Linked DNA regions of Homo sapiens. The protein of the gene in region 3 purifies or fractionates together with the protein of the main gene of each other region. This does not show direct contact. Each region holds a gene or a part of one and is shown on either strand. Other genes may lie near its edges.

What was found.
Region 1: the proteins of POLA1 (region 3) and POLD1 fractionate together in Homo sapiens (co-fractionation; one large-scale study listed by BioGRID). This does not show direct contact.
Region 2: the proteins of POLA1 (region 3) and WDHD1 fractionate together in Homo sapiens (co-fractionation; one large-scale study listed by BioGRID). This does not show direct contact.
Region 4: the proteins of POLA1 (region 3) and DDX46 fractionate together in Homo sapiens (co-fractionation; one large-scale study listed by BioGRID). This does not show direct contact.
Region 5: the proteins of POLA1 (region 3) and HMGA2 fractionate together in Homo sapiens (co-fractionation; one large-scale study listed by BioGRID). This does not show direct contact.
Region 6: the proteins of POLA1 (region 3) and POLE2 fractionate together in Homo sapiens (co-fractionation; one large-scale study listed by BioGRID). This does not show direct contact.

What each region holds. Positions count from the first base shown.
Region 1 is NC_000019.10:50,404,847-50,408,346, reverse strand, and holds part of POLD1 (DNA polymerase delta catalytic subunit), read right to left. Parts: intron 2,166-3,500; coding exon 2,025-2,165; intron 1,941-2,024; coding exon 1,830-1,940; intron 1,365-1,829; coding exon 1,173-1,364; intron 1,021-1,172; coding exon 932-1,020; intron 1-931. UniProt on the Homo sapiens protein: As the catalytic component of the trimeric (Pol-delta3 complex) and tetrameric DNA polymerase delta complexes (Pol-delta4 complex), plays a crucial role in high fidelity genome replication, including in lagging strand synthesis, and repair.
Region 2 is NC_000014.9:54,989,100-54,992,599, forward strand, and holds part of WDHD1 (WD repeat and HMG-box DNA-binding protein 1), read right to left. Parts: intron 2,302-3,500; coding exon 2,114-2,301; intron 114-2,113; coding exon 1-113. UniProt on the Homo sapiens protein: Core replisome component that acts as a replication initiation factor. Binds directly to the CMG complex and functions as a hub to recruit additional proteins to the replication fork.
Region 3 is NC_000023.11:24,710,918-24,714,417, reverse strand, and holds part of POLA1 (DNA polymerase alpha catalytic subunit), read right to left. Parts: intron 1-3,500. UniProt on the Homo sapiens protein: Catalytic subunit of the DNA polymerase alpha complex (also known as the alpha DNA polymerase-primase complex) which plays an essential role in the initiation of DNA synthesis.
Region 4 is NC_000005.10:134,824,779-134,828,199, reverse strand, and holds part of DDX46 (probable ATP-dependent RNA helicase DDX46), read right to left. Parts: intron 1,254-3,421; coding exon 1,180-1,253; intron 1-1,179. UniProt on the Homo sapiens protein: Component of the 17S U2 SnRNP complex of the spliceosome, a large ribonucleoprotein complex that removes introns from transcribed pre-mRNAs.
Region 5 is NC_000012.12:65,963,637-65,966,791, reverse strand, and holds the end of HMGA2 (high mobility group protein HMGI-C), read right to left. Parts: 3' UTR 501-3,155; downstream 1-500.
Region 6 is NC_000014.9:49,664,215-49,667,714, forward strand, and holds part of POLE2 (DNA polymerase epsilon subunit 2), read right to left. Parts: intron 2,200-3,500; coding exon 2,116-2,199; intron 950-2,115; coding exon 893-949; intron 461-892; coding exon 412-460; intron 1-411. UniProt on the Homo sapiens protein: Accessory component of the DNA polymerase epsilon complex. Participates in DNA repair and in chromosomal DNA replication.

The DNA.
Region 1 (3,500 bases), on a different chromosome or scaffold from region 3:
TTTATTTTTTTTGAGACGGAGTCTCGCTTTGTCACCCAGGCTGGAGTGCAGTGGCGCAATCTCAGCTCACTGCAACCTCCACCTCCCGGGTTCAAGCGATTCTTCTGCCTCAGCCTCCCGAGTAGCTGGCACTGCAGGCGCCCGCCACCATGCCCAGCTAATTTCTGTATTTTTAGTAGAGACGGGGTTTCACCGTGTTAGCCAGGATGGTCCCAATCTCCTGAACTTGTGATCCGCCTGCCTTGACCTCCCAAAGTGCTGGGATTGATTACAGGGGTGAGCCACCGTGCCTGGCCTATTAATTTATTTTAGGGCCGGGGTGTTGCTCTGTCGCCCAGGCTGGAGGGCAGTGGCGCAATCATCGCTCACTGCAGCCTCCACCTCCTGGGCTCATCATCCTCCCAGCTCAGCCTCCCAAGTAGCTGGGATTACAGGCATGCACCACCACGCCTGGCTAATTTTTAAAAATTTTTTCGGCCGGGCACGGTGGCTCACGCCTATAATCCCAGCACTTTGGGAGGCCGAGGCAGGTGGATCACGAGGTCAGATCGAGACCATCCTGGCTAACACGGTGAAACCCCGTCCCTACTAAAAATGCAAAAAAAAAAAAAAAAAAAAAAATTAGCCAGGCGTGGTGGTGGGCGCCTGTAGTCCCAGCTGCTGTGGAGACTGAGGTAGGAGAATGGCGTGAACCCGGGAGGCAAAGCTTGCAGTGAGCTGAGATTGCGCCACTGCACTCCAGCCTGGGTGACAGAGCGAGACTCTGTCTCAAAAAAATAAAAATAAAAATAAATAAAAATAAAAAAATTTTGTGGAGCAGGGGCCTCGCTATGTTGCCCTGGCTGGTCTCAAACTCCTGAGCTCAAGTGATCCTCCCACCTCAGCCTCCCAGAGATTACAGGTAAAAACTGCACCCAGCCTGGGGCCTCACCCTTTGAGGGGCTCGATGACAGTGGCTCCCGTGTAGTCCTCGCCGCCCTCTGACTTCACCACGGGCATCAGCAGCCCCTCGTGCATGGCCTGGGAGGGGAGAAGGTGGGAAATGGAGTGGGTATAGGTGGGGCCGTGCGGATTGGGAGTGGGGAGAAAAAGTGCATCCAGGATGCCATTGCCTGGAGGGGGCCACAGACGTGCCTGGTGGGGGGTGGCGAGGACAAGTCTCGGCTACTGACCTGCCGCAACAGCTGGGATACGACCTTGACCTGCTGGCCACGACTGAGCAGGTAGCTGAGGGGCACGCCAGTGACCCTCGCCATCTCCACGGCGTTCACCAGCACCATGAGCCGCTCCAGCAGCCGCAGTGGCAGGTAGGCATCCTTCAGGCAGTACACAGCCAGGCGGCGGCGGGTCTGGTCGTTCCCATTCTGGGGATGGGCACGGATGGGGTCAGGGACCAGGGGTTGGGGGTGGGAGGTGGAGCAGGAGAAGGAAGTGGGGGTCAGGGTGAGGTAGCCTGGGGAGGGCCTGGGAGGTGAGGCGGGCAGGAGGGCCCTCCAAGTCGTCAGGGTCTGGGTGGGGATGGAGGTAGGGTTGGGGGCCAGGGAGTCCACAGGGCCAGAGGGAGGAGGAGGGAGCAGCCTGAAGGCCACCGTGGACCTGTGGTCAGGCCAGGAAAGCAGAGACAAGGTCATAGTGACAGAGGTCACAGGAGTGGAGAGAAATCTGGGGTCAGAGGTCAGGAAAAAGTGGGCGTCAGGTAAGGTCACAGGTCATAACAGCAGGTCAAAGAGTGAGGTCAGACGTGGGGGCGTGAAGTTGAGGTCAGAGGCCGGGGAAGGGTGAGGTGGAGGTCAGAGGTTGGGGTGAGAGGTCAGGGAGGCAGCAGGCACCTGCAGGTCGGTGATGATGCTGTGCTGCACGTCCTCCTTCTGCTCGCCCAGGAAGTGGAAGCTCACGGCATTGAGCGTGTAGGAGCGGAGCTTGTACTCCCGCAGCAGCACCTAGGTGGGTGGGTGGGCTGGTGGGCTGCGGGCCTGGGCAGTGGCCTTCCAAGGACAGGGACACACCCCACCTCCCGCCCATACCTGCAGCATGTCCATCTGCACGCGGCCCACCATGCTGACAACCTTGGTGTCCCGCCGGCCCGTCTGCTTGGACTGGAATGAAGAGTCCCGGATGTTGGAGCAAAGGCCGGCCACACGGCCCAGGAAAGGGAATGTTTGTACCTGAGGAGGAGAGGCAGGGTGTGCAGCAGGCTGCGGGTCCCCGTCACATAAGCCTGAAGAACGGAGATTGAGACCAACCACAACATCCTTATAACAACCCTAGGGGGTCGAGAGCAACCCTGGGGGCAGAAAGACGGTCTGGGGCTGGGTGTGGGTGGCTGGAGACTGGGGAGGGAGTCCGGAGTAAGGACTAAGCTGCAGCCAAGGCTGGGATAGCGAGAGTCAGGGGCCCTGATGGACTGGGGGCCAAGGATGGAGCCCAGTGTCTGCGGGCTGTACCTAGGCAGGAAACAGGAAGAGATTTGGGGACACTGTGAGCAGGCGGCCAGGTGGGGGCAGAGGCAGGAGGCGGCGTGGAGCTGGGCTGAGATGGATGCTGAGGGCGCTGGAGGGCGCCTGGCTGCAGGAGGCCTTGCAGGGTGCTGGGGCCCAGCCTGGGGGAGACTGAGGCCAGAAGAAGCCTGAGCTGGGGACAGGGCAGAGGGTGAGGGACACCCAGGGAAGGGGAGGAGGAGTACCATGGCCCGGGCATCAGCGCCACGCTGTGGAATATACACTGGGGGTCCTAAGAGTTTGTTCTGTATTTTAGAATGGATTTTTTCTTGTTTTCTCTTTAATAGAGGCAGGGTCTTGCTATGTTGCCCTGGCTGGTCTTGAACTCCTGGGCTCCATCGATCCTCTCGCCTCATCCTCCCAAAGTGCTGGGATTAGAGGCGTGAGCCACCACACCCAGCCTGTTTTGTTTTTCCATTACCAAGCTGGCCAGACATAGAGAAAAGCAGGAAAATAAGGCAATATATCTCATTAAGGGCTGAACCATGTTCTCCCAAAAGATGTTGAAGCCCTAACCCCCGGCACCTCAGAATGTAACCTCATTTGGAAATATGTCTTCGCAGGGGGTCAAGTGAAGATGAGGTCACTGGGGTGGGCCCTCACCTCACGACGGTGTCACTACACAAAGAGGACATGTGGGCTAGGTGCACTGGCTCACACCTGTAATCCCAGCACTTTGAGAGGCTGAGGTGGGCAGATCACCTGAGGTGAGGATGGAGACCAGCCTGGCCAACATGATGAAACCTAGTCTCTGCTAAAAAAAACAAAAACAAAAACAAAAATAGGCCAGGCGCGGTGGCTCACGCCTGTAATCCCAGCACTTTGGGAGGCCGAAGTGGGCAGATCACCTGAGATTGGGAGTTCGAGACCAGCCTGGCCAACATGGAGAAACCCTGTCTACTAAAAATACAAAATTAGTCGGGCATGGAAGCGGGTGCCTATAATCCCAGCTACTTGGGAGGCTGAGGCAGGAGAATCACTTCTACACCCCAGCGCCCCCTG
Region 2 (3,500 bases), on a different chromosome or scaffold from region 3:
AAAGTGTTTGATAAGTGTGTTGCATGGTGTATGGAGGTATCATGGAACTCCACATCTATGGCATTGTCTTGCTCATCATTATAGCAGCGAATAATTCCAATAGAGTTCCACACCTACAAACAGGTAAGATTAAATATAAGTCTGAGAAAAACTGAAGCTCCTAGAATCAGTAAGCCACAGTAGTACAAATTAACAAATATTATAATTAAATTTGTATTAAGATTTAGGTTTTGGGAGTTACTACATCTCATCTATCTCTAAATAGTTTCTGACAGGAGTCATAATACCAGAGCTACAATTACTTATTATTTCCTTGGTGAGAATAAGATACATATATACTTATTAATTAGCAAATAGAGTATTTAATAATATTTAAAAATAAATTACATGACTGTTACTTTAAAAGCACATTACAGTTGTCCTTTGAACAACCAAACCATTAAATTCCTCAAAAGAAATATTTCAAAAATTGAGTTTTCTTACAAATATGGATGCAAATAACAACAGACTTTTTTCCTAACTATTCTATGATAAAATAAATACATACATTTTAAGAAAACATAATTTTTTTTTTTTTTTGGAGACAGTTTTGCTCTGTCACCCAAGCTGGAGTGCAGTGGCATGATCTCGGCTCACCGCAACCTCTGCCTCCTGGATTCAAGTGATTCTCCTCCCTCAGCCTCCTGTGTAGCTGTGGTTACAGGTGCATGCCACCAGGTCCAGCTAATTTCTGTATTTTTTTAGTAGAGATAGGGTGTTTCACCATGTTGGCCAGGCTGGTCTCCAACTCCTATCCTCAAGTGACCAACCCACCTTGGCCTCCCAAAGTGCTGGGATTATAGGCGTGAGCCATCACGCCCGGCAGAGGCAACATAAATTGATACCACTTGGAAAACTTATCTTCCACTGATGTCCATTATAGGCTCACACTAGGCCCTAGAGTTTCTAATAAAATTAGTGCCAATATTTTATTTAACATAACTATAAATAAAATATTGACACTAATAAAAAAATTAAGACCTATGACTTGATGACTACTGATAGCAATAAAAAGTTTTATTAATATTAATCACCACCCTTAATCTTTACATAAAAATTTATGCCAGGCCTATACTCTTCAAATTTATGCCAGGCCTATACTTTTAAAAAGGCAAAATCCTCAGAATGGAAAACATCATATAACCAACACAGAAAAACTAAACTTTTTAAGAACTCAGGCCAGGCGCGGTGGCTCACGCCTGTAATCCCAGCACTTTGGGAGGCCTAGGCAGGCGGATCACGAGGTCAGGAGATCGAGACCATCCTGTCTAACATGGTGAAATCCCATCTCTACTAAAAATACAAAAATTAGCTGGGCATGGTGGCAGGCACCTGTAGTCCCAGCTACTCGGGAGGCTGAGGCAGGAGAATGGCGTGAACCTGGGAGGCGGAGCTTGCAGTGAGCAGAGATTGTGCCACTGCACTCCAGCCTGGGCAACAGAGCGAGACTCCATCTCAAAAAAAAAAAAAAAGAACTCAAATCTAAGGCAAAAAGCCAATATATTCATTTTGTCTATTCATGAAATATATATTTAATGTGCACTGTATCATACCTTGTTCCAAATCCTAAGAACATATCAGTAAACAAAACAAAAATCTTTATCCTCGTGTAGCTTACATTCTGGTGGGTGGTGGAGTGAGGAAAAGGGTCAGACTTTTCCCCCCATAGTACTTGCCACCTTCTAATATATTATACTAGTAGTTGCCTTCTAAGAAAGCACCTCCTTACTAGTGTTTTGGAGTCAGTATAATCTTCTATGTAACAATGACCATGAAGAATAAGGTTTGAAAGTATTGCCAAGAAATATTGCAAGATAGTAATATTTACTTATGTTCATTTAATGTCATTTTGGAAAGCAGAATTTTATTTAACATCATTTTCAATAAGGTTGAAACAAGATTAAAACTGTGAGCTAACCATAAAATAAACCAACCACAAAACTGTAATCAACCAAAGTGCTCCAGGCTACTTAATCAAAGTTTTTAAAAATATGTTTTATCCAAAAAAATTAACTATAGTAAGAAAAAAGTGCTGAAAACCTACTAAGAAGTTAAGTGTAGATCCAAGTCTTACCATGAATCTGTGAGTGAGATGCAACGGTGTAGAACCTGACTGAAATGGCTTTTGCCGGGGAGTTGGCATGGGTCCATCATAAAATGGCCTTTGGGATGTTACAAGTGGTAGATTGTGAATGCTGCCTTCTTGACCATCTTCCTCCTCCTCTTTGAGAAGACTAGAACCAGTTTTTAGCATTGAAATATCTACAACACAAAGGATCATAATTAAGGGAATCACGAATACCAATGATTTGGAAAAAGGAAAGCATTATGGAATCTAGTAACTTTTTCATTCATATTCAATGACACTGACATGCTATTTGCCTCTTTCACTGTGTTAAAGAGATGCAGTGATGGTGCAAAAGCAATGGTGGGTAAAATTCCTGGTGCCTTGGCACCAATCAAGGCAGTGGCACCTAACTGTATTAGTCGTTACTGCATTGTTAACCACTACTCACTTGCAGTAAAAATATTAATTTTATTAAATCTTGACGCTTACACAGATTTTTTTTTTAAAGTTCTGTGTGCTAAAATGAGAAGTGTGATGGTTGTCTTGAAAAAAAGCACTTATGCAATTGTTTGAGTTGTAAGCTGAACTAAGTGATTTTTTTTCATACAACACTACTTTTACTTAAAAAACACATGCCAGATAAACTACGGTTATGCAGAATTGGATCTTTGGCAAACATTTTCTTGTAAATGAATGAAGTGAGCCTATCAATTAAGAAAAAATAACTGGCAGAATTTGTTGCCAATGATAACATTTGAGCTTTCAGGCCAGGCACGGTGGCTCACACCTGTAATCCCAGCACTTTGCAAGGCCGAGGCAGGCAGATCACTTAAGGTCGGGAGTTCCACGTTGACCAGCCTGGCCAACATGGTGAAACCCTGTCTCTACTGAAAATACAAAAATTAGCCAGGCATGGTGGCACATGCCTGTAATCCCATCTACTCGGGAGGCTGAGACAGGAGAATCGCTTGAACCCGGGAGACTCCGTCTCAAAAAAAAAAGAGCTGGGCACAGTGGCTCAGGCCTGTAATCCCAGCACTTTGGGAGGCCAAGGTGGGTAGATCATTTGAGGTCAGGAGTCCGAGACCAGATTGACCTACATAGTGAAACCCCGTCTCTACTAAAATACAAAAATTAGCCTGGCATGGTGGCGGGCACCTATAATCCCAGCTACTCAGGAGGCTGAGGCAGGAGAATCACTTGTACCCAGAGGGCAGAGGTTGCAGTGAACCGAGATCGTGCCACTGCACTCTAGGCTGGGTGACAGAGCAAGACTCCCTCTCAAAAAATAAAAACAAGAAATTTGAGCTTTCAATTAAAAATTAAGATATTGGAAAGCTTCTATTTGCCATTATGAGCTTCACAACTTTCTAATACTTAGAAACTACTGATG
Region 3 (3,500 bases):
TTGGGAGGCCAAGGCGGGAGGATCACGAGATCAGGAGATCGAGACCATCCTGGCTAACACAGTGAAACCCTGTCCCTACTAAAATACAAAAAATTAGCCGGGCATGGTGGTGGGCGCCTGCAGTCCCAGCTACTCCAGAGGCTGAGGCAGGAGAATGGTGTGAACCCAGAAGGTGGAGCTTGCAGTGAGCCAAGATCACGCCACTGCACTCCAGCCTGGGCGACAGAGCAAGACTCCATCTCAAAAAACAAAACAAAACAAAACTATGAGATTCTATACAAGGTATGTAGGAAAAAATATTTTAAATGAGTTTAATTCAAGAAAACATGGGCCAAATGTTTTTATAGAAACTAATGAAATACCAGTTAAATATCAGCATAAGTGTGACTGCTTAACTGCTATTGTTAATGTGAATAAAAAGCTTTTTAAAAAAGTGAGAATTTGGGTTTGTTTTCCCCACAGAAATAAAAAGATAAAGCTAATCTTGAACCAAGAAATTAGCCTAGTAGCCTTCATGAGATCATCTCTTTAGCTGTATACTGAATCTGATAGGAAAATTTAACTGTGAAGAAATGGGATTACCAATTATGATATGGTGGCATCCTAATTTCCATTTTATGAGAAACAGCAACCAGATACACAGTATGTCATATCAACACTAAACAGCACAGAGACATCTGCTCATTAAAGAACAACTTTTGCTGGCCGGGTGCGGTGGCTCACGCCTGTAATCCCAACACTTTAAAAGACCGAGGCGGGCGGATCACGAGATCAGGAAATCGATACCATCCTGGCCAACATGGTGAAACCCCATCTCTACTAAAATACAAAAAATTAGCCAGGCGTGGTTGCCACATGCCTGTAATCCCAGCTACTCGAGAGGCTGAGGCAGGGAAATCGCTTGAACCCCGGAGGCGAGATTGCAGTGAGCTGGGATCGCGCCACTGCACTCCAGCCTGGCAACAGAGCAAGACTCTGTCTTGAAAAAGAAAAAAAACAAACAAAACTTTTGCCATATGTTTTCTCTTACGGCTATGTGTAAATCACCTACAAACTTTTCTAATACCGTCAATTTTACTCTCGCTTTCTGATTCATCCCAGAATAGTCCTGATCTCAAAAAAAAGCCAACAATGAATAATTGAAAGAATGTGGTAGGCCAGGCGCGGTGGCTCACGCCTGTAATCCCAGCACTTTGGGAGGCCGAGGCAGGCAGATCACGAGGTCAGGAGTTCGAGACCAGCCTGACCAACATGCTGAAACCCTGTCTCTACTAAAAATACAAAAATTAGCCAGGCATGGTGGTGCATGCCTGTAATCCCAGCTACTCGGGAGGCTGGGGCAGGAGAATCGCTTGAACCCAGGAGGCAGAGGTTGCAGTGAGCCGAGATCATGCCATTGCACTCCAGCGCTCCAGCCTGGGCAACAGAGCAAGACTCTGTCTCAAAATAAAAAAATAAAAAAAATAAGAATGTGGTAGTGGCATACAAATAGACCAAATGAAACAGAACATAAAGTCCAGAATAAGACCCAATTACTTATGGAAATTTAATATATAATGAAGGTGGCATCCCATATCACTAAGGAAAAGATGGACTTTATTAAGTAGTGTTGGCTAGCCATTTGTAAAGAAGTAAACCAGTATAAACACCAAATGGATCACAAATCAAAATTTTTAAAAATGAAACTTTACAAAAACCTTTTAAAAAGCAATTCCTTTGCAATTTGGGTCCAGTGAAAATCTTTCTATGACTCAGAATCCACTTGCAAGAAAAAAAATGATAAATTCAATTACACCAGAATTGGTGTAAAAAGAAAAACCAAGAAAAAAGAAAACCAAGTTAAAAGAAAAATGAAGAAAAAATTTGTGCAATATGTATCACAGATAAAGGACCAATTTCCCTGACAAAGAACTTTTAAAAACTTAAAAGATAAAAAGCCCAAAAGGAAAGCAGGCAGTAAACACAAACATATATAAATAGTTACGTTTTATGAAAAGATGATCAATTTCATATGTAAAAGAAATGCATATGAGGCTGGGCATGGTGGCTCACATCTGTAATCCCAACACTTTGGGAGGCCACGAGGCGGGCGGAATACGAGGTCAGGAGTTCGAGACCAGCCTGGCCAACATAGTGAAACCCCATCTCTACTAAAAATACAATAATTAGCCGGGCATGGTGGCACACACCTGTAGTCCCAGCTACTTGGGAGGCTGAGGCAGGAGAATCGCTTGAAACCAGGAGGCGGAAGTTGCAATGACCTGAGACCGCACCACTGCACTCCTGCCTGGGTGACAAAGTGAGACTCAGTCTCAAAAACAAACAAACAAAAAAAAATGCAAATGAAAACCACACTGAAATGCCACTTCTCACATATCAGAGTGGCAAAAATTCAAAAGCTTGAAAACACTGTTAGTAAGGCTGTAGAGAAACAGACATTCATACATTGTTCATGAGAGTGTAAAATGGGACAGCTCCTATAAAGAATAGGCAATAGCTAATAAAATTTTATGTGTAGTGGGCTGGGCGTGGTGGCTCACGCCTGTAATCCCAGCACTTTGGGAGGCCAAGGCGGGTGGATCATCTCAGGACAGGAGCTCGAGACCAGCCTGGCCAACATGGTGAAACCCCGTCTCTACTAAAAATACAAAAATTAGCTGGGTGTGGTGGCAGGCACCTGTAATCCCAGCTACTCAGGAGGCTGAGGCGGAAGAATCACTTGAACTCAGGAGGCAGAGGTTGCAATGAGCCGAGATCGCGCCATTGTACTCCAGCTTAGGCAACGAGCAAAACTCCATCTCAAAAAAAAAAAAATTTATGCGTAGCTACTCTTTGAGCCAGCAATCCCACTTCTGGGAATTTTCTCTGAGGAAAACGCCATATGCACAGAGTTATTGGATGTGGCATTATAATAGCAAATTACTCAAAATAATCTAAATGTCCTTCCAAGGAAACCATTTGAATAAACATTGTGCAATCCCTATCATGGAATACTATGCAGCTACATAGAAATAAATAATTAAAAACAAGCTCTCTATGTTCTAATATGGGGTAATTTTCAAGACATCTTGCTACAAGAAAAAAGCAAAGTACAAAACCTCTATAACATTATCTTTTGTTTAAGAAAGAAAAGGGGCCGGGCACCGTGGCTCATGCCTGTAATCCCAACACTTTCCCAGGGCAAAACGGGCGGACTGCTTGAGCCCAGGAGTTTGAGACCAGCCTGGGCAACATGGCGAAACTCTGTCTCTACTAAAAACACAAAAAATTAGCCGAGCGTGGCAGGATGTGCCTGTAGTCCTGGCTACTCGGGACACTGAGGTGGGAGGATAGCTTGAGCCCAGGAGGCGGAGGTTGCAGTGAGCCCAAATCGCACCACTGCACTCCATCCTGGACGACAGAGCAAGAATCTGTCTCAGAAAAAAGAAAGAAAAGGAAATAAAAATACATATACATGCCAGCGCGGTGGCTCACACCTGTAATCCCAGCACTTTGGGAGA
Region 4 (3,421 bases), on a different chromosome or scaffold from region 3:
CACTTAGATAAAAGACAACGTTTCCTTTCAAAGGAAATGTACACACTGTAGGGAGTGTTTATAAGCTGCAACTGGCACTAAAGACACAAGGACATGTCTACCTCCTCGGGAAAGGCAGTCTGTAAAGGGCTTTTTCCAAAATCAAATTAAGTCATTGTTTAAGTTTAAAGACACTGACAACACCATGTGTTGGCAAATATGTAGAACAACTGGAATTTTCTACACTTCTGGATTGAGTGTGAATTGATGTAACCTCTTTGGAAAACTATTTAGCAATACCTAGCCTATAATTAACAATTCTACTCCGAGGTATATACCCAAGGAAAAAATCATGCTAATATATACCAAACGCACATGGAATAATGTTCACAGAAGTGTTGTTCATAAAAACCAAAAATAAGAATAGCCCCCAAATCCAATATATAAATATAAATTAATTGTTGTATAATCATATAAATATTATATGGCCATGAAAATGAATTATTGCTACATGCAATAACATGGACCGATCTCCTCAAAATGTTGAGTGAAGGAAACTAGATGCAAAAGGTGCAAACGCATGATTACACTTATGTGGAGTTCAAAAACAGGAAAAACTAATCTATGATTTTAAAATTCACAATATAGGGCCGGGCGCCACGGCTCACGCCTGTAATCCCAGCACTTTGGGAGGCCAAGGCAGGTGAATCATGAGGTCAGGAGTTCGAGACCAGCCTTGCCAACACAGTGAAACACCATCTCTACTAAAAATACAAAAATTAGCCAGATGCGGTGGTGTGCGCCTGTAATCCCAGCTACTCAGGAGGCTGAGGCAGGAGAATCACTTGAACGCAGGAGGCGGAGGTTGCAGTGAGCCGAGATCGTGCCACTGCACTCCAGCCTGGGTGACAATGCAAGACTCAGTCTCCAAAAAAAAAAAAGAAAAGAAAAGAAAAAAAATTCAAGGTATGGTTTTGTTGGGGGGAGATGAATAGTGACAAGAATAGACACAGAGAAGACTTCTGGGATATTAGTAATGTTTTTTATTTCTTGATCTGGGTAGTGACTACACTGGTATGCTTATTACTTTGTGAAAATTCATCAAACTATATGTTTATGATTTGAGTACTTCTCTGTATTTATATTTCAATAAAACACTTATTAAAACAAAACAAACGAAACTTTAAGGTTTTCACTCACCAGCCGGATCAGCTCTTCTTTTATGAGCCTGGTGATTTCTGCCTTTGCTTTCTGCACAGCCAGTTCATTGGCACCTAGTGATTGAGTGGAAAGCATATTATTCAAATTACTAAACTTACACTGTGTTTACCCATATCACGGAGGTCCAGGAAGAAACACTGTAGGTGACTTTCAGAAACACTGTACTGCCTGCCAAGATAGCCATTTAATGCCTGGTGGAACATTACCCACATTATATAATGGCTGCTTATTATTTTGATTACTTTCAGAGTTTCAAATGTAACCACTGAGGTCATATTATGTGTTAAGAGTTCCTAGTATGGTGATTAAAAAGAGTGGAATAAAAAGACTATTAGTGATTTGTCCAGGAGATAGTAAGAGAAGGCTAAAGGGAAATATAACTTCCTTGGTTTATTCATTTAGTAAGTATTTATTAGACATTTATGATGTTCACTGAAGTCTACAAATGTTTCAGAAGGGTCTCGTCTGAACAAAATCTTTAAAATGAAAGGAGGACTAGCCAATTGGAGGGAGGAAAGATACCATAAGAGTATTTTGCAAAGGAAATTAATTACATGCGTAATGGTACAGAGTTAAGACAAGCATGCTTAATTATTGAAGAATAAGAGAAGCGTAGCGTGGTTGGAAAAGGAGTATGAAAGAACACCGCAAGATAGCTGACTAGATGAGGTAGGCTGCAGACATTCATTCACAGTTATCAATTTCATAAACATTAAGCACTCACCTCTCACATACTGTGAGACATTTAACATATAAATAACAAATTCATGCTCTTTAAAAGCTTACAGACTAGAAAAACAAACTTGTAAAGATATCAAAACAGGATGAAAAGGAAGTAGTTCACAAACTTCACTTTTAAATACCACTTTTAGGAAGTTTTCCTGACTCTGAAAGGCACAGTTAAGTGTTTTTTTCCTTAGTGCTCTCACAATATTGTATTTATACCATCACAAGAGCACACTTTTGAGGTAGAATGGACAAGATATTTTTTCTGATGGGATATGAACAGTGAAAAAGAGAAACAAATTAAGATATTAAGAGCTGGCTGGCAAGTGAAAAAAGGCAGAAGTAAAAGAATATACTGATTCCAGGAGGTAAACAGGTGTTTTCTGGACAGTGATAATGGGTGAAATTTAATTCTAAAATTGCTGTAGTTGAGGTGCTCATCAGACATCCAATTGGAAATACAGATGAGGCCAATGGAAATATGAACCAGAAGTTTAGAAGTGGCAGAGATTAGAGAGCCATCAAGGGTAGGCTGGGTAGAATCTGGAGCCAATGGACAATGCCAGTGAGTAGGTAAGTACAGATAGACACCATATTGCACACTGAGAAGAGAAAAAGAGCTGAATCAAAGAAGACTAAAGATTGAAATGTCTAAGAATAAAAGGAGGACTGGGTTTGCAACGTAGAGAGCTATATTTTTATCATTCCGTGTATTTTTAAAAAACACAAATGAGGGAAAGATTTATAATAAACGAGAAAATTTCCCCCCATATTAGAAATGAGTAACTTTTCTGTCCCCAGAGAGAGACAGAGACGGAGCTAGAAAGAGAGACAGAAACAGTTGCACAACAGGAAGGAAAAGGCCAAGGGTATGGCTATGAAGTCATAGCAACATATCTAATTTAAATCCTATACCTCCACTAGCCACCAATCACAACACTATAAAACTACGTGGGGAAGGTGAGTGCTGGAAGGGAAGAGAAAAAGAAGAATCAAGACCGAAGTCAAACTGAAAATTACAACAAAAATGAAATTTAGGAGGAAAACACGTTGCTTGGTATGAGTTGGTGTGAAGCTTGTTGATATTTTTGTGCAACTTTAAAAAGAAGGAAAATGACACTCTCACCTAGATTTAACTGGAAAATCAATTTTCCTACTTTTATCAGAGCCCGACAATTTGGACCAGTTTAAATTCTGACTTATGTAACTTCTTGTAATAGGTTACATATGTTTATAAGCAGCTATGAAAAAAAGGGCATTTCCTTTCATTGGTCCTAAAACAACTGTGGCTGCTTTTAAGGGATTCTCCACTAGTAAAAAGAGAGGGTCACAGAACAGGCTATATAAATTATACAGGCTGACTAGGCATGTAAGTCCTTCCTGTTCTCCTTCCCTTTGCCTGGTGGGAGGCCTGGAGCTGCTGAGCCAAACAGAGCCTCCAAGGAGCCAGCCAGGCAGTGGGGTCCCTCCAATTACAGAACTAGAAACAGATGAC
Region 5 (3,155 bases), on a different chromosome or scaffold from region 3:
CTAAATGAAGAAAATTTGAGTAACAACGGTGATAGTAAAAACCGAAAGTTTTAGCTTTTTAAAAATCCTAGATTTATTCATAATTAGCAACTTAAGTGTCAAGTTGACCTTGAACTTGGTAGAATCATTCTGACTCTGCTAGTAGTTTTTAGAGTTAAAAGGCTCCTATCTAGGAGACTCTTCGTGGCTTTCATTTCTTATTCATCAATCTTCCGGATCTCTTTCCAATGTTACTTCAAAGACGACTAGTGCATTAGTTACTTCCCTTACAAACTTTGTAGGTGCTAGCCTGAAGTAAAAATTCTGTAGTTTGGAGCTACAGCTTGTTCTTCATGTTTCTTCTAAGATTGTCTCTGTAGAATTAAATGTCAAAATCTGAAAGGCGAGCTCAGGGCAGTTGATTGAAGGAGTATGATATGTAAAACACACTTTATGTACATGTGTGCCAAGATGTGTGCAAGGGGTGCAACAAAATGACTTGTGAGTGTCTCCCTCCTTGATCTGTTTTGACCAAACTTTATTACTCATTTAATGGAACTGTAACAAAGAGCAGGAATCAAAACACATGGGGATCACAGAGGCTGTTATGTTTATTGTGCAGAACAGACAGTGATAATACACTAGAGAAATATTTTCAACAAGCAAGCGATTCAAAGTACAATCATAGACAGCAATTCTACATAAAGAACAAAGAATAAAGTTAGAAGACACTCAAAGGAACAGGGAGAAAGTCAACTGCAGTTAAACGTCTTGATACTTTTCTCCTGCAAACATACCTAACTTGCAGAAATGGTAGAAAAGTTAAATGTCCAGTCTTATGTAGCTGCGACCAACAACAGCAAAGAACAGTCCTATAAAATTTATCTCCCACAAAAATAAACTATATATATAAAAATTTTATGATGTTCTTACTGTTCCATTGGCCACAAGCTTTTTTTTTCAGTATGAAAAATGAGGTATACTGGGACTTAAGAGGTAGTAGTGTGTTTTGATTGTACAACATACAGGAAATAAAAGTGTAACTTTACCAGAGATGGAAATCACTCGGTGCACCATGTTTGGCCAACATGAGCAATTGCTTCCATTTTATGAGCTGGCCAATGAGGTTTCTAAAAGGCCCATCCAAAGATATGGAATGCGACTTTTATTTTTATGAGCCACTGTTTATTTGCTTATTTAACGCACAGTTAACAGTAATGTTGAGTTTTAATTCTCTCCATAGCTCCTTTGGTGATTCACAACAGTGAGCGATCTGCCAGTCTCAGAGAGGTATGTGGCCTTTGAAACTACCTCCCTGAAGCAGCTGGAAGAGAGATGGTTTTGAGTTTCATTTGGCTTCAGTACTAAAAGCCATACTGACAAAAGCCGTCATGAGAAACTACCTCCTGGCCCAGTTGATAATACCATGTTAAAAAGTCAGCACACTCACTAGGAGAGAAAGGCATAAAAACTCTACATAAGAAGCGTTTAAAATAAATCTGGTTGAGACATATTACAAAAATCACATTTGTGTAAAATACATGAAAATATTTGTCAAGCATTTTCTTATATTCAACTAATCTTAAAAACACATATTTTTGATTGCATTATGCAAAAGCAGGGCTTGTTGCATCTCACCTACAAAGCTTCAAGTTTCTTTGAAGGTTGGCTTTTATTTTATTTATTATTTACTTATTTTGCAAAAGTATGTAAAAACGTGTTCCTTTCTATCAAATGTCTTTTACAAAAATAGTTTTGACTAGGGTTAGCTGCAGTTTGAACTATTTCAAACATTGAAAAAACAAATGAATGCTGCAAGTAACAAGTTCATTCCTTTTGAAGTCTGGAGGTAGGTCTTTGCAAGTCAATTAGTCCATCTCCTTAAAGAATTCATTTGAGGTACAGACTTGGAGGGTAATATTTAAATATTACAGTCAAATCTTGTGTGATGTGTAGTGTGATTGAGGAAAATTATCCTTAAGAACCTAGGAGCGACTTGGTTAAAAAATTTTCAAGTTAATGTAGAAATCTAGCAGAGAAGCTGAAACAAGTATTTTAAAAATTTTTAATTAAAAAAACATAGAAAAATACATAGTCATGCTGAAACACAGTAAGGAGATTGCTTCTTTAACTGTAATTAAGTGTACAAAAAGAACTGCAGATGATTAGAATCACCTACCCAGTAAGTTTTTTTCTTGCATTGCTTGTGTATAGCAGCATGTAATAAGTACTAGACTGTAAATTCGTTGTAACATTCAGAGGTAGTATTGAGTAGTGGGGATATATTGCATCTCTGGCTAAAAGTGCAGTTTGAATGAAGAGATGGTGAACTCAAGCCGAAGAAAAGCACCTTGGTCAACCATCTTATGTCAAAACGTATTACTTGAAGTAACACATATGCTTAATTTGAGGTAAGTGGTATTCAGGTCTTTCATGGAAACTGATACACAATGAAAAGAGAGAGGGAGAGGAAGAGAGAGAGAGAAAGACACAGAGAGAGATTGCCCCCCCCTTTTTTTTTTTTGCTTTTTAAATTGATGTATAACTATAGCAAAAGAAATTTAGATTTCGCTCCTCCCACCTCATAATTAGGTGAGTTCATCATGCATTATTCTGTTGTACCTTTTCATTAAATTACAAAGAGGATAATTTTACTTGTCTAGTTTCCTTAAATGCTCTGAGGCTGACAAGTGTTATTTATTGCTAAATGGCATTTTGGCTCTGTAGGAAGTAGATTTCCTGAAAATGAAGTGTTGTCCTGAAAACAAGTGCTGTGAGTAAATTTATTACTCCTGCTGATATGTGTGATATCCATAAATAGAAGAGTTGGCAATATTTGTTTGCTTACTTCCCTTTTTGAAAAATGAACATAACCTTTTCTAGTTTGTTAGCTGAATGAAAGGATACATCAGCATTTCGTCTCATTTAGAAATAAAAAGTTAAAAATCATCAAGTAAGTGTCTACAAGATTATACGAAAAAGAGAAAGTAGTATCTAGTCCTTATCTTTGGTGTTCTAAACAGAGGATTCACTACAGGGAGTGGGTTGGGGTGGTATTTGAGGTGTACACAGTGTTACACACCGCGTTCTTCCTATATGAATGCCCGACGTCACAAGTGTGACACGTTTCTTGTTTGCATGCAGTGCAGTGATTGACTAAACCCAATTCGGTTTTT
Region 6 (3,500 bases), on a different chromosome or scaffold from region 3:
GGCATGCGCCTATAATCTCAGCTACTCGGAAGGCTGAGGCATGAGAATCACTTGAACCCGGGAGGCGGAGGTTGCAGTGAGCCGAGATCGCGCCACTGCACTCCAGCCTAGGTGACAGAGTGAGACTCTGTCTCCAAAAAAAAAAGAAAAAAAAAAAAAAGGGTGTGTAATTCGGTGATTTTTAGTATATTCACAAGTTGTGTAGCCATTACTACTATCTAATTTCAGAACATTTTCATCACCCCAAAAAGATTTCTATTAGCCCATTAACAGTCTAAGAGTTATTTTGCCAAAAATATGCTCTTCTAATTAATGGTATCCCAAATTATATCATGTTAACATATTTTACCCAAAGCAGAAAGTTTTACTGGAGAATGAGAAGAAGGACAGTAACAAAGTATACTGACTTACCTTCTGCTAAGACAAAGCATGCCTCTGTGTATAAACCACTATGGAACTGGTACACAACAGTTGAGGAAAATAATTCTATTCTTGAGGCAGTAATAAAGTCAACATACATTTTGAGTCCAACAAGGCTTCTAAATAATAAATTTAAAGACTTCCCATTTGAAACTGTGAATAGACCACAGCTTAGAAAGAGCTTAAAAAATTTTAGTTTTAAATGTCCTCATGTTTAATTCTTGGTAATATTGACAGGGTGGATCATTCTTACCATGATATAAATTTCGTCAGTGATTCATCTAGATTCTCCAAATAAGAGAAAATTAAAGTTGTTCTGTCCCTGTTTAGGATTATATCTCTACATTCCTACACCAGCAACATAGAGAAGTTACATTGAGAACCCAAATAGGTAAATTTTAGAAGGATATATAATCAATTTCCCCAATTCACGTAATGCAGATTTTAAAAAATACAGACAAGTGAAGGATATAGCTTTACTAAGGTCTAGTTGGACTGTTCCAGTAGGATCTTCCAGAAAAAATTTTCCCTAAAAAAATGAAAATAAATAAATCCACATTTATGTAACAATGAAAACCGTTGACAAAAAAATTAAACTACAAGTTTGACAACAGAATACAATAGGGAGAAAGTGGATTTTAAAAATCAGCTATTATTTCTAGTCCAGGCTCTTCCATTTACTAGTCTGATAACCCCAGACTAATCACTTAACTGAGATTCTGACTCCTCACAGGTACAATGGAGAATGACTCCTACAGATAAGAAATGGCAAGAGGGACATTTGATGTCTGCCATAAGGAGGGTCTCCCCAGGTACCTTCTAAGACAGCCAACAGCATGTCCAAGGGACCAGGACATACTCTGCAGCTTGCTTGTTCAGAAACCCAGTACTCTCCGTTTATCCAGAGGTCACTACAGGCCTAATTTCAGGCTATGCAAACTGGGCTCCTGCACAAGACACTCTGTCCTGATGTCTTCTCAGGAAACCAAACACAGATGAAAAAGACACTTGGTGACTGAGAAAAGGTTTTTGTTTTTTCTGGGTTTTTTTTTTTTTTTTTTACTATTACAAAAGTTTATTTAACAAAAAGTCTAATATGAAAATGTACATGACCTAATTTTTACGTCATTGTAAAACAGGCCCTATGGAGAGAGAAAATGGGTTTCTCTGCTGAACAGCCATTATTATTTTATTTATTTATTTATTTTTGAGACAAAGTTTCGCTCTTGTTGCCCAGGCTACAGTGCAATGGCACCATCTCAGCTCACTACAACCTCCACCTCCCGAGTTCAAGGAATTCTTCTGCCTCAGCCTCCTGAGTAGCTGGGATTACAGGCATGTGCCACCACGCCTGGCTAATTTTGTATTTTTAGTAGAGACAGGGTTTCTCCATGTTGGTCAGGCTGGTCTTGAACTCCCGGCCTCAGGTGATCCGCCCACCTCAGCCTCCCAAAGTGGCTAGGATTACAGGCGTGAGCCACCGCGCCCAGCCAACAGCCATTATTTATCCTTGTTCCAAGGCTTCTGACATGATGATACTATTTCCTCGTATTACCACTATTCCAATATTGTTCTGTTGGTGAGGCGAGTTTTCAATAAAGAATACATTCCTGTGCCCACTACAAAAATGTTCTATGTAACCGACATTTCATCAATCCAAGGCCAAAAATAAAAGTTTGATGCTTATTAAGTTACCTCTTTTAACTGCGTTATCATTCCAAGAACAATCGCATCTCCGATTTTGGTTGTACTACCCAATAAGGTTTCTATTGTTTTAAGCTAAAATAAAACAAAATAAATTTTAAAGACTGTAAATATATTCTTTCAAGAAACAAAACTTTTTATAAATAACTATATTTGGGGTATACATTTCAGCATTTATAGCTACTTTACAGTAGAAAATCAAATAAAATGGAAATAAAGTTGTAAAATTAAACTTAGGATGTTTAATTTTGTCCTACAAAAAAGCTGTAAGATCAAGTGTATGATGCCTAAAGAAACACCACATCGACTCAGGCTCTTACCAATGACTGAATCCTCACACCATATCATTCTGAATAATGATAAGTACATTTATTTTTTAAATATAGAAAAGAATATCAATTTTATTTTCTTTGAACAGTACCTTTTGAAAACTAGCAAGCTATTTAAAAATATATATTCCAATTTTACTTAGTATTTTAAAAGGCTCTCATTATTATTTACATTCTCAATCTGATCTTTTTTTCTAATCAGAAAGTTTAAGGTAGTAAAAATTGGGACACTATTGTAAAAAATCCTTTCCGGCCAGGTGCAGTGGCTCACGCCTGTAATCCCAGCACTTTGGGAGGCCGAGGCAGGCGGATCACGAGGTCAGAAGATCAAGACCATGGTGAAATCCTGTCTCTACTAAAAATACAAAAAATTAGCCAGGCATGGTGGCAGGCGCCTGTAGTCCCAGCTACTCGGGAGGCTGAGGCAGGAGAATGGTGTGAACCCGGGAGGCGGAGCTTGCAGTAAGCCGAGATCGCCTTGCATTCCAGCCTGGGTGACAGAGCAAGACTCTGTCTCAAAAAAAAAACAAAAAAAACAAAAAACTTTCCATCTTTTTCTATATGTAATCCTAAATATATGTAAATACATACATATATAATTTATAACACACACCTATACAGTTTATTTACAAAGATGAAATCATAGTATATGTACTATTCTGCAACTTAACTAATTGAAGTTAATATTATCTGAGACATCTTTCCATTTTTCTACATATAGATTTCCTTCTGTTTAAAGAATAGAGATATCTATATTATACATATGACCATTTATTTCACCAAACTCCTATTAAAGGACATTTAAGTTGTTCCCAGTTTTCTACTAATAAAAACAATGTTTAATATTTCTGTGCAACTTTCTTGGCCCACTACACAGATAGAAACTTTTTTTTTTTTTTTTGAGATGGGGTTTCACATTGCCCAGGCTGGAGTGCAGTGGCACTCTCATACCTCACTGCAGCCTTAAACTGGGCTCAAGTGATCCTTCCACCTCAGCCCCCTGAGTCACCAAGATTACAGGCACTAGCCACTGCATCCAGCTACAGA